Regions from separate parts of the Homo sapiens genome. Here region 2 is linked to region 1. Evidence: fine-mapped expression QTL. A gene starts in region 1. The other region holds a variant in brackets. All regions are shown on one strand. Distances are between the middles of the regions. Region 1 holds the start of EXOSC5 (exosome component 5). Region 2 holds the start of ERFL (ETS repressor factor like).

Region 1 (5,221 bases):
GAGTGAAACTCTGTCTCAAAAAAGAAAAAAAAAGAAAAAGGAAAGAGAGGTACAGAAAGAAAGAGAGAGAGAAAAGAGAAGAGAAAAGGAAAGGAAAGGAAAGGGAAAAAGAAAAGAAAAGAAAAAGGAGAGGGGAGGAGAGGAGAGGAGAAGGAGAGGAAAGAAAGAAGAAGAGAGAAAGAACAGGTGGGAGAAATAAAGGGGAAAAAACAATAACTCTTAAGATAATACAAATTTAAATATATATAAATAAAAAGTAGGGACTTCTTCCCTCCCCACTCCCCACCAAAAATGAAGTAGGGGAAGCAAGAGGAAAGGTAATCAAGAGATTGAGACAGGAGAGAAAGATTTAATCAGCCATAAATGACCTTTCCCTAGCCTGCCCCAGTCCTGCCCACCTCCTGCCCCACTTGCCCAGCCAATGGGCCCCTGGGACTGAGATCAGCTGTGGAGGATATGAACTGCTCAAAAAAAAAAAAAAAAAAAAAAGTGAAAAGGTCTCCAGCCCAAAGGCAAGAGACTGCCCTACCCACACCTTGCTCCTGCAGCCCTTCTGTATTTACCTGTTTCAAGTGACTCCGTTCCTAGATACCTACTACGTCCTACTCCTGGCCCATCTTCTTCACCCTCCTCCCGTTTGTTCCCCTACCCAGAGCTTCTTTCTACAGATTCCATCTTCCCCTCCTTATGGATTGGGGATCAGAGGATCAGACTCAACCTCACAATATCTTTTCAGATTTTTTTCCCCAGGGCCTCACCAATCCAGGCCTTCCCAAGGTCACCCCTTTCTTCTCCCCATCTCCAAGGTTAGTTTCTGTCCCTTCCCTCCACCCTCACTATCAACATTCCTATTGCCCTTAGGATGTGCCAGGTCCAGTCCTTAGCATTTTACATATTGATTTTTCACAGCCCTATGAGGTGGCCACTGTTAATATTTTAGAGAGGAAAATTAGCTCCATAGATCCAGAGAAGTGCAGTCCGTTGGCCAAGGCTACACAAGTGGAAAGCGGCAGAGCAAGGACATGCATCCACCCATGTAACCACTACTCTCCTATCTGTCAACTGTAGTTCAAAGCTCTTCTGCAACCCATTGCCTCTCCCCGTCTAAAGATAGGCTTCCACCTAGGTTTTTTGCAGTGTAATCTTGCCCTTAGCAGCATCCACCTGAAGGGATTGTGACCCTTTTGACAAGAAACAAAGCCTTCTCAAGTGTTTCTAAGAAATGTGGGCAAAGTGCCCTGTCTGTACCTCTCTCCCTCCTTTTTTCCCCTCATTAATTCAACAAATATTAATCGTCTCCTCTGTACAGTGTCCAGAACACACGAATTCTCTGTCTTGATATTCGATCAAGAGACACAGGAATCAAACAAATTTTTTACACAATTCATTTTAAAATCAGAATTGTGGCAAAGGAGCAAAGAAATACAAGGCCCTATGCAGCCTGTGACAGGGACCTGTTCTCTTCTTTCTTCTTCTTGAAGAGGGATCTTTGCCCAGAAGAAAGTCCCTCCCTTACAAAGTCAGTTTCATTCTCCAAACCCTGAGGGAGAAGGTCTTGCGGTCTTCCCCTGTTCCTCCAAGGAGCCTCCCCTGAATACCAGTGGCAGCTAATAAGGAACCCCCATCTCTCTCTTCAAGTCGTCTCCCTCAGGGCCCACAAAGAAGTTGCAAACGGGTTTTTTCCTCTCCTAAAGAAGTGGAAGTTCTTTTCGTCTCCTAAGGAAGTGGCAGATCTTCCCTTCGGTGTCTTCTCCAAGGAGTCTCCCACTCTTTTTCCCTTTTGTGACAGCCCTTCCTTCATATCCTTCAGGGACCCCACACTCTGAAGATAGCCTTTACATCCCTAATCCCCTTTGGGAAAACCGCCTGGGGCCCAGGTACTCACAGATCTAGCCAGTCCCCGAGCCCCAGGCTGCCGCAGCAGCAGGAGGGCAGCCTGGCTCAAACCACGGTTTAGCCGCCAGACCCTCGCTGCAGCGATCGCTACCGCCATCTTGGCTAACAACCACTCAGCGGTCCGGCACTCACGTAGGCTAGATTCGGGGCTGCCTCTTTATGTGCCTGACGCAAACTCCAGCACCATCTGACAAGAAAACCATCTTCTTCCCGTTCTGTGGTAGATAGAATGCACAGAGATTTGGAGAAAAAAAAATCTATCTACCCAAAATTTTCTCCAATCGCCTCATTGTAGTTACTCCTGTAACAGGCAAAGAAGAGGGCAACCTGACCAGGGCCTCAGGGATTTAGGGCCCGGGGGCCCAGAGTAAAGCGGATCAATGCCAAGGCCTGCCTTCTGTTCCCAAATGTCCAATGGCGTTGCCAGAGTTAGGAGGTGGGACTGGGCGGAGCCAGATTGTTGGTAAACGCTAAGCCACGTGCGGACGCCCAGGAGGATGGCCCAGCCCGGCGCGTGCGCACTGGTTACGCAGCCTGTTTGCGGCGCGCGCTGCCAGGCGGAAGTGACAACTGCAGCCGCACGTGGGCTCGGCGCGATGGAGGAGGAGACGCATACTGACGCCAAAATCCGTGCTGAAAATGGAACAGGGTCCAGCCCTCGGGGTCCTGGCTGCAGCCTCCGGCACTTTGCCTGCGAACAGAACCTGCTGTCGCGGCCAGATGGCTCTGCTTCCTTCCTGCAAGGTAAGAACTTCACCCAGGTCTTTCTTTTGGAGAGGGACTACCGTGTACTGTGCAACCGAGTGCCCACCTCCTCACGATACCAGCTGGTAAATGTCACTCCTGCGTTGATGCATGATTTCTTGTCCGATTGAATACTACTAAATACGCAGGGATACACACATCTCTCCCTCACGACTAGAAAGGAGAAGATAGTTCCATCTTTGTAACTATCTCTGAGAATGAGAGGAGGGGCAGACTGTCCGCCCAAGAATTGATATTTCAGAATAGGGAAAATCACCTCGCCAGGGTAAATATCCCCCTTAACTCGATTCCTCCTCCACCCTCCCACCCCCACCCCCCACACACACACCCTCTAGGTCCTTGCATCCCGGACTGAAGCAAACCTGTCTATTTGCATACTGTGGACTGTGGCGGATCTTTCACCCACGTAAATACTCCTCAAATTGAAGATAATGTCATTGCGCTGGGTTGAGAAATACATCCCCACCGCTACCTCACTGCATCTCTCCACACAAGTAAATATCCCTAAGATTAGGGCAAGTCAAAAAAAAAAAAAAAAAAAAGATTAGGGCAAGTCTTACCTATAGAGCAAATATCCCCTTTTCCTAGCTAAATAACTCTCAGAAGTAGATTAACTCCAAGAATATTTCTCTTTAACGTTTGAGACGGGAGGCCGGGGGCGGTGGCTCACGCCTGTAATCCCCACACTTTGGGAGGCCAAGACCTGTGGCTCACCTGAGGTCAGGAGTTCGAGACCAGCCTGGCCAACATGGCGAAACCCTGTCTCTACTAAAAATACAAAAACTAGCCAGGCATGGTGGCGGGCGCCTGTAATCCCAGCTACTCGGGAGGCTGAGGCAGGACAATCACTTGAACCTGGGAGGCAGAAGTTGCAGTGGGCCGAGATCGTGCCATTGTACTCCAGCGTGAGCGACAAAGCAAGACTCTGTCTCAAAAAAAAAAAAAATTGAGACAGCGTCTCACGATGTCACCCAGGTTGGTCTTGAACTCCTGGGCTCAAGCAATCCTCCTCCCAAAGTGCTCATACAGGTATGAGCCACCACGCCCAGCCCCAATACATTTTAACAAAATTTGGCTGCTGTGTTGATTGTGGGGAGTATGGGGGAAAACAGGGAGGTGATGGTGGCTCCAGCCAGAGCAGGAGTAGTGGAGGTGATGAGATTCTGGATGTAGTTTGAAAGTAATACGGACAAAACTTACGTATAGTTTGGTTTGAGTGCGAGGAAAAAGATTCAGGCATAACTAAGGTTTCTGCCCAGATCTGTACAAGTCTGGAAATCAGAAGAGAGACCCAAGCTGGACATAGGCAATTTGGAACTCTCTGGCTATATAGATGGTATTTCAGGCTATTGCCTGAACGAAGTGAGTGTAGATGGAAAAGAGAAGAGGTCCCAGGACCAAGCCCTAGGCCTTCCAACTTGAGCAGTCAGAGACATGTGACAAGCTAGCAAAGGAGACTCAGAAGGAACGCCCAGAGAGTTAGGGGGAAACCAGGAGATGGTGGTGACCTGGGGCCAAGAAAAGAGCATGTCTGAGATGTGAGGGCTGACCAGCTGTTTCAGCCTTACTGACAGCCGGGTCATGGGAGGGTTGATCATTTGGAGGTCAGTGGTGACGATGTTGAGCTGCCGCAATGGAGTGGTGGGGTCACAGAAAAGGAAGAAGAGGCAGCTGTTCAGGAGTTCTGCTGTAAGAGGATCAGATAAGTGGGGCAGGAGTTGTAGATTGTTGTGGGGTCAACAGGGGAGAGAATTGCTGGAGCCACGTCTTCAAGAAGGTGAGAGGGGAGAGACTCTTGTGCTCGGGCAAAACACAGGCAGTTCATCTGGAGCCAGAGGCAAGTTCTGTTTTGGTAACTTCTCCAGTCCTCAGGGCAGTTTCTCCTGGAACTAAGCATACCTTCCGTGTAAGGGCAAATTGGGCTTCCCAGGAAATACGGCCTTAACCAAGGACCTTCCCAGGCCCTCCCTCAGGCTTAGCGCTTATGCTGAATTGAGATACCTAAAGTTTCTTCGAACGTAAGAATTAAGAAGAGGCCGGGTGCAGTTGCTCACAGCGGTAATCCCAGCACTTTGGGAGGCCTCTGAGGTCAGGAGTTCTTTTTTTTTTTTTCTTTTTTTTTTTTTGAGATGGAGTCTCGCCCTGTCGCCCAGGCTGGAGTGCAGTGAAGTGATCGTGGCTCACTGCACCCTCCACCTCCCGGGTTCAAGCAATTCTTCTGCCTCAGCCTCCTGAGTAGCTGGGACCACAGGTGCGTGCCACCGCGCCCGGCTAATTTTTGTGGTTTTTAGTAGAGACGGGGTTTCACCATGTTGGCCAGGCTGATCTTGAACTCCTGACCCTGTGATCCACCTGCCTCAGCCTCCCACAGTGCTGGGATTACAGGCGTGAGCCACCTCGCTTGGTTGAGGTCAGGAGTTCTGAGACCAGATTGGCCAACATGGTGAAAACCCATCTCTACTAAAAATACAAAAATTAGTCGGATGTGGTAGCACGCACCTGTAATCTCAGCTACTCTGGAGGTTGAGGTACAAGAATCACTTGAGCCTGGGAGGCGGAG
Region 2 (5,474 bases), 530 kb before region 1:
AGCGGGGCGGAGGAGAAGGGAAGGGGAGAGGAGGGGGGTCTCTCCACCTCTCCACCCACCCCCGCCCCACCCCCACTCCCTCAGTCCCGGGATCGAACCTTATTTAGAGTCGCGATTCGACATCTGTTTTCAAATTTGATCAGCTCTGAACTTTATTTTCCGAGTTTGAGGAAAATTATATTCCATCGATCGCGCCCCCGCCCCCTCCCCCGCGCCGCCGCCGCCGCCTCCATATATCTGCGAGCCGAGCCCGGCCGGGCGGCCGCGAGGGCGGGAGGCGCGCGGCGCGCAGAGGAGTGGAGGGAGGAGGAGGAGAACGAGGAGGAGGAGGAGCAGGAGGAAGAGGAGGAAGAGGAGAAGGCGCAGGAGGCAGGGCCGCCCCGCGCCCCCAGCCGGCCAGGCTGTCCCCGGCGCGCGCCCGCCCGCGCTCGCTGTGCTGAGCTCCAGCCCGGAGCTCCGTCCTCAGCTCTCCCCGTCTCTGCTCTCTTTGCGCGTCTATCTCGCTGTCTCTCTCCCTCTCTGCATCTCCCCGTCTCTGCTCGTCTCCCCGTCTCTGTCTCCTTGGCTGTCTCTCCGTCTCTGAGTCTCTCCTGTCCCGGCGTCTCAGAGACTCCCTCTCCTCGTCCTCTGGGTCTCTGCCTCCCCGGGGCTCCGGGCATCTCCCCCCACCCCGCCCCTCGCCCCGGTGCCCCCTCCCCAGGACGCCGCGGGGGCCATGGCTGCGGGATCCGAACTTTAAACACTTCTCCCCGGACCGGAGCGGATGCGAAAAGCCCAGAAAGTGAGTGAGCGCCGCGGCCGGCGCAGGGGCGGGGAGGGGGCGGGGATTCCCGCCCCAGGAGGGGGCGGGCGCGGGGGTGGTCCCGGGAGGCCTGAGAAGCTGGGCCTCCGAGCCGGTGGAGGGGTAGGCGGATGGGGTCATCCGCCCCGGCTGTAAGGGGCAGGTGGGGCAGCGCCCAACTCTGGGAAGGTGGGAGGCGGGTAGCGCTAGAGGTGCGGCCTCGGGACAGGGGTGCGAGATTTGGGGGCGGGGAGGGAGAGCGAGTGAGAGCCACGGAGATGGGGTCTGCAAGAGACTGGACTGAAAATCTGGGAACGGGGGTTGGTGGCCGACCTGAAGGTGGATTTGGATGTTTGGGGCTGAGGAGTCTGGATATTTGGGGCTAGATTCTGAGTGGGGTTTAGAGGTCAGGGCTGAGGGCTTGCATATTTGGGACCTAGGGGCTCAAAGCCAAGAGACTGGACACTTGGGGCGGAAGATCTAGATATCTGAGGTTGGGAGCTGACTGGGGCTGGGAGTCAGGACTGGGGGTGTGGATATCTGGGACTGGGGATCAGCATAGGAGTTTGGACTTGAGGGGGCCAGAAGTCTGGATTTGGAGTTGGAGTTCAAAGCTAAGGGTCTGCGAATTTGGATCTGGATATCTGGGGTCTGGATATTTGGTATGAGGGGTCACAGGGTCTGTGGGAAGGACATTTGGGCCAATTCTGGGGTCTGCACACTTCGGGGCAAGGAGTACAGGCCTGGCCCTGACCTTCGTGGGGCCGGGGCCCTCTGGGACACCCTTTCTATCATTCCACCACTGTCGCAGGGCCCTGCTGGGCCACTTCTGTTATCTCTCCCCTGGCTGGGTCTCTCCTCACTGTCTCTCTGTCTCTGTCTCTCACAGCATCTCTGTGTCCACCTCTAACTCTCCCAGGATCTGTCTCTCTATCTCTGTCTCTCACAGCATCTCTCTCTTCCTTTTTGGGTCCAACTCTTAAGACTATCTCTCTCTAAATCTCTGTGCTTATCTCTCCCTGTGTCTCTTCCTTTCTCGGCATCTATCTCTCTCTCTTCCTTTCTCGGCATCTCTTTCTATCTCTCTCTCTCTGCCTCTTTCTGTCTCTTACTGTCTCTCTGTCTCTGTCTCTCCCAGCATCTCTGTCTCTGTCTCCCCCTCGCTGGTTTCCGCTCAGATTAAGCCGGGGACCTAATTCCAGGCCCAGGATCGAATTTTCTGGCAACAAAGGGAAATAGCGAATCGATCGGTCGCTCTGGAGATTAAGAGACAAGCGGCGCGCGGATCTATCACGGCTAAACGGCCCCCCCGCCCGCTCCCCCCTCCCGGCCGGCCGCCGCGGCCCAGA[C/G]GCGCTCCGCATCGCCAAGCAGCCTCAGGGGCCCTGGCTGCCCGGCAGGCCAGCAGGCCAGGCCTCGCCTAGCCCAGAGCTAACTCTGTGCCCCACCCAGGGCCAGAGCCACGGGAGGGACCCGAGAGCCAGAACTGGCTCCCCAGGGAGGGGAGGACAGGGGAGCGAGAGAAATCGAGGTGGCAGACCATCTGGCAGAGTCACACTGCACCCACCTGTGGCCTCAGGTAACTAACCTTTCACACCTGTCTATCAATGCACCTGTCACATCCATGTTCCCCCTTCAACTCCCCAAATCTGGACTTCCAGGTAACATCTATCTCCTCATACCTGCCTGCACGCAACACCTGTCCTCCATACCTGTTCCCTTCATCTGCCCTGGAGGTAACACCTATTTCCTCTCACCTGCCCCTCCAGGTAACACTTGTCCCCCTCACACCTGCCCTTAAGATGTCTGGTCTCTCGGGGAGCATACGTCCCCTCTTACCTGCCCCTCCAGGTAATACCTGTTCTCTAAAATCTGCCCCTTCCACTGGAATCCCTGCATTTTATCTCATTTCATGTCACACTGGCCCCTTCCTACCTGTACGTGAGCCATCCCACCTGTCCCCTAAAGCTGCAAACTCACCTGTTCCTCACACATTCGTATTTCTTCACCTCTTCCTCCTCTCAAGCAGTACCGAGTCACCACACATGCACACACTCACACACACATTCCTTCTGTTGCACACAAGCACTCACACATGCAACCTGCTAACCTGTCCCCTCAGGTAAGGCCTGCCCCCACCAGTCCCCAGCCTCCTGGCCCTCACCCATCCTCCTCCGTGACAGTGTTGCACCTCCTTAACCACCCCAACACCTGCCCTTCCAGAAGAGCTGGCCACACACAGGTCACCTAAGAGCACACCTGTCGCTCACATCCCTCTCTACCTGTACCTGACTTCCAAGGTACACTGACTTCCAAGGATTCCCCCGTACCTGTCTTTCCTACTTGTCATTTCGGGTTACTCATCACAGACAACAGAAGCACCTTCCCCACCTGTGTCCTAACCCCAAGCACCACCTGATCACCAATCCACACACTAGTACCCTCCTCATGGCTTTCCCTGCCATTATGCCTTCCTCCAAGCTCTTGTCCCCTCAGAGTTTCCCGGTCCCTTGTACACTTGCTCACCTGTGTCTCACTCCTTCTTGCACTGTCTTTGCCTCTCCTGGTCTCTCACTGTCTCTCACTATACACAACATTACTTTACACACACACGTTTGGGGCAGGAGTCTGTCCTTGGCCACAGGTATCTGCGTCACCTGTATACCTGTTTTCCCACACCTGTCCCTCAGGTACTCTCTATCCACTTCTCTTCTTTCCCACATACCTAATTTCCCATGTTTCTCTCTCTCTCTTGCTGCACAAGGTCACACCAGTAACCCCCTGCACCTGCCATTCCTCACCTGTTTATCCCAGGGAATCCTCTGCCCTGGTAACACATTCAAATCATTTAATCAGCAAACAGATACCGAGGCTTCGACACCCACTATGCATACCCCCACTTAATCTCTCTTTGCTTCACATCTCTTCAGCTGGGTCTAGGGGTCACCTCCTGAAAACAGCCCTGTCCCACAGACATGCACCTGGTTCCCCACACTCCAGCCACCTCTCTCCTTTTCCTCCCCCCAAACATCCATGTGACCGGAGTCCCTTTGCACCTTTTGCAAGCATTGGGAACCCACTGCACACCTCTGCCCCATTCTCTGCTATGTTCACTTTTGATACCTGTCCCTGCAGCTTGTCACCACCACACCTTTAGGAAGAAACCTTCAGATCTCTCACACCTGTCTCCAACCTGCTTCTCTCCAGAAACACCGGTCCCCTTTCCTAGCACGTGTCTCTGACCAGCTCTCTCCTCGAGGAGCGCCTTCCTCCACGTGCATAACACCTGTAGCATGTGTTAGACACATGTGTCGCCTGTTCCCAGCCACCCCCACACCTGCTCCCCGCACTGCACAGCATCTTAAGTCCGAGGTTATCTGACTTCAATGTGCATCAGAAACACCTGGTCCAGGTATCATTCTCTGAGTAGCAGGTGCTTGTAATGTGTGCCCCACCTGTTCCACCACATAACACCTACCCTCCCCATATATACTGATGGCGACAACGAGAATGAGGATAAAGGTGAGGGTGATGGTGATGACAGCTCCCGATTACTAAGACCACCATCCATCTCTGTGACAGACACCAAGTTCTTCACACCCATTGTCTCATTTGTCCTCACAGGACCCTCATGAGGCACGTACTTGCCTCTTGTCCCCATTTTACAGAGAAGGAAACTGAGTCCAGAGAGTTTCTTTGAGGTCCCAGAAACAGGTAGATGTTAGAGATTTGAGTCAAGTCAAGGCTGTCTGACTTCAGAGACTGCCCTCCTAGCCATCCAGGTGTCCTTACCTCCCTCATCTGCCCCTCAGGTGACCTCCTCCCTCCACAGACACACCTATCCACCTAGGGACTTTGGTGACACTTGCTTCTCCATTACCTCCCAACCCCATCTCCCCTACTCTCCAGGCTCACTTTCTCACCCTTCATTGACTCCTGGGGCTAAGGCTGTCATTCCACATGCTCACCCCCACCTCCCCCACAAGCTGTTTGGGGCCAGCACAGCCCCCTCCCAGAGCACCCCCACCTCCCCAGACACACCCCCAGCACAGCCCCCTCCCAGCGCACCCCTACCTCCCCCCAGCACAGCCCCCTCCCAGCATACCCCTACCTCCCCACACACACCCCCAGCACAGCCCCTCCCAGCGCACCCCTACCACCCCCCAGCACAGCCCCCTCCCAGCACACCCCTGCCTCCCCAGACACCCCCCCAGCACAGCTCCCTCCCAACACACCCCCGCCTCCCCAGATCCACCCCCACCTCCCCAGACACACCCCCAGCACAGCCCCGTCCCAGCACACCTCCGCCTCCCCAGACACCCCCCCAGCACAGCCCCCTCCCAGCACACCCCTGCCTCCCCAGACACACTCCTGCCTCCCACACCGCCCCTCCCTGCATGCTGGCCTTTCCTTTCCACCCACCCTCACTTTCATTTCCTTTCTCCATTTCCACCTTTGCCACCACCTGCCCCTGTCTCCTTGTCCCTGTCCATGTCTGCCTGTCTTAATTCTGAGTCTCTCTGTCTCTCTTGGTTTCTGGCCTCTCGACTCCTCTGTCTCACCCTGTCTTTTTGTCTCTGTCTGTCTGTCTCCCAGTCTCTCTTTGTTCTCTGTATTTCTCTGGTTGTCTTTGTCTGTGTCTGTTTTTCTCCATACAGGGTCTTTACAGCTCTCTGACTCTCTCTCAGTTTCTCCA

What was found. PIP is the estimated chance that this variant, and not a neighbour inherited with it, causes the effect.
Region 2: its variant is fine-mapped to the expression of EXOSC5 in lymphoblastoid cells (GTEx, PIP above 0.99).

The regions. Positions count from the first base shown.
Region 1 is chr19:41,394,600-41,399,820 of GRCh38, reverse strand. It overlaps EXOSC5 (exosome component 5), which reads left to right and starts at 2,462. Exons shown (of 6, transcript NM_020158.4): 1 at 2,462-2,640. The coding sequence starts at 2,493. It overlaps BCKDHA (branched chain keto acid dehydrogenase E1 subunit alpha), which reads right to left and starts at 2,003. Exons shown (of 9, transcript NM_000709.4): 1 at 1,886-2,003. The coding sequence starts at 1,993. RefSeq lists enhancers at 1,148-1,819, 1,975-2,254, 1,820-2,492 and a silencer at 2,251-2,539.
Region 2 is chr19:41,923,347-41,928,820 of GRCh38, reverse strand. It overlaps ERFL (ETS repressor factor like), which reads left to right and starts at 372. Exons shown (of 6, transcript NM_001365103.2): 1 at 372-781. It also overlaps a transcript of ARHGEF1 not described here. RefSeq lists a silencer at 247-426. The variant C/G (reference allele first, on the strand shown) is at 2,131.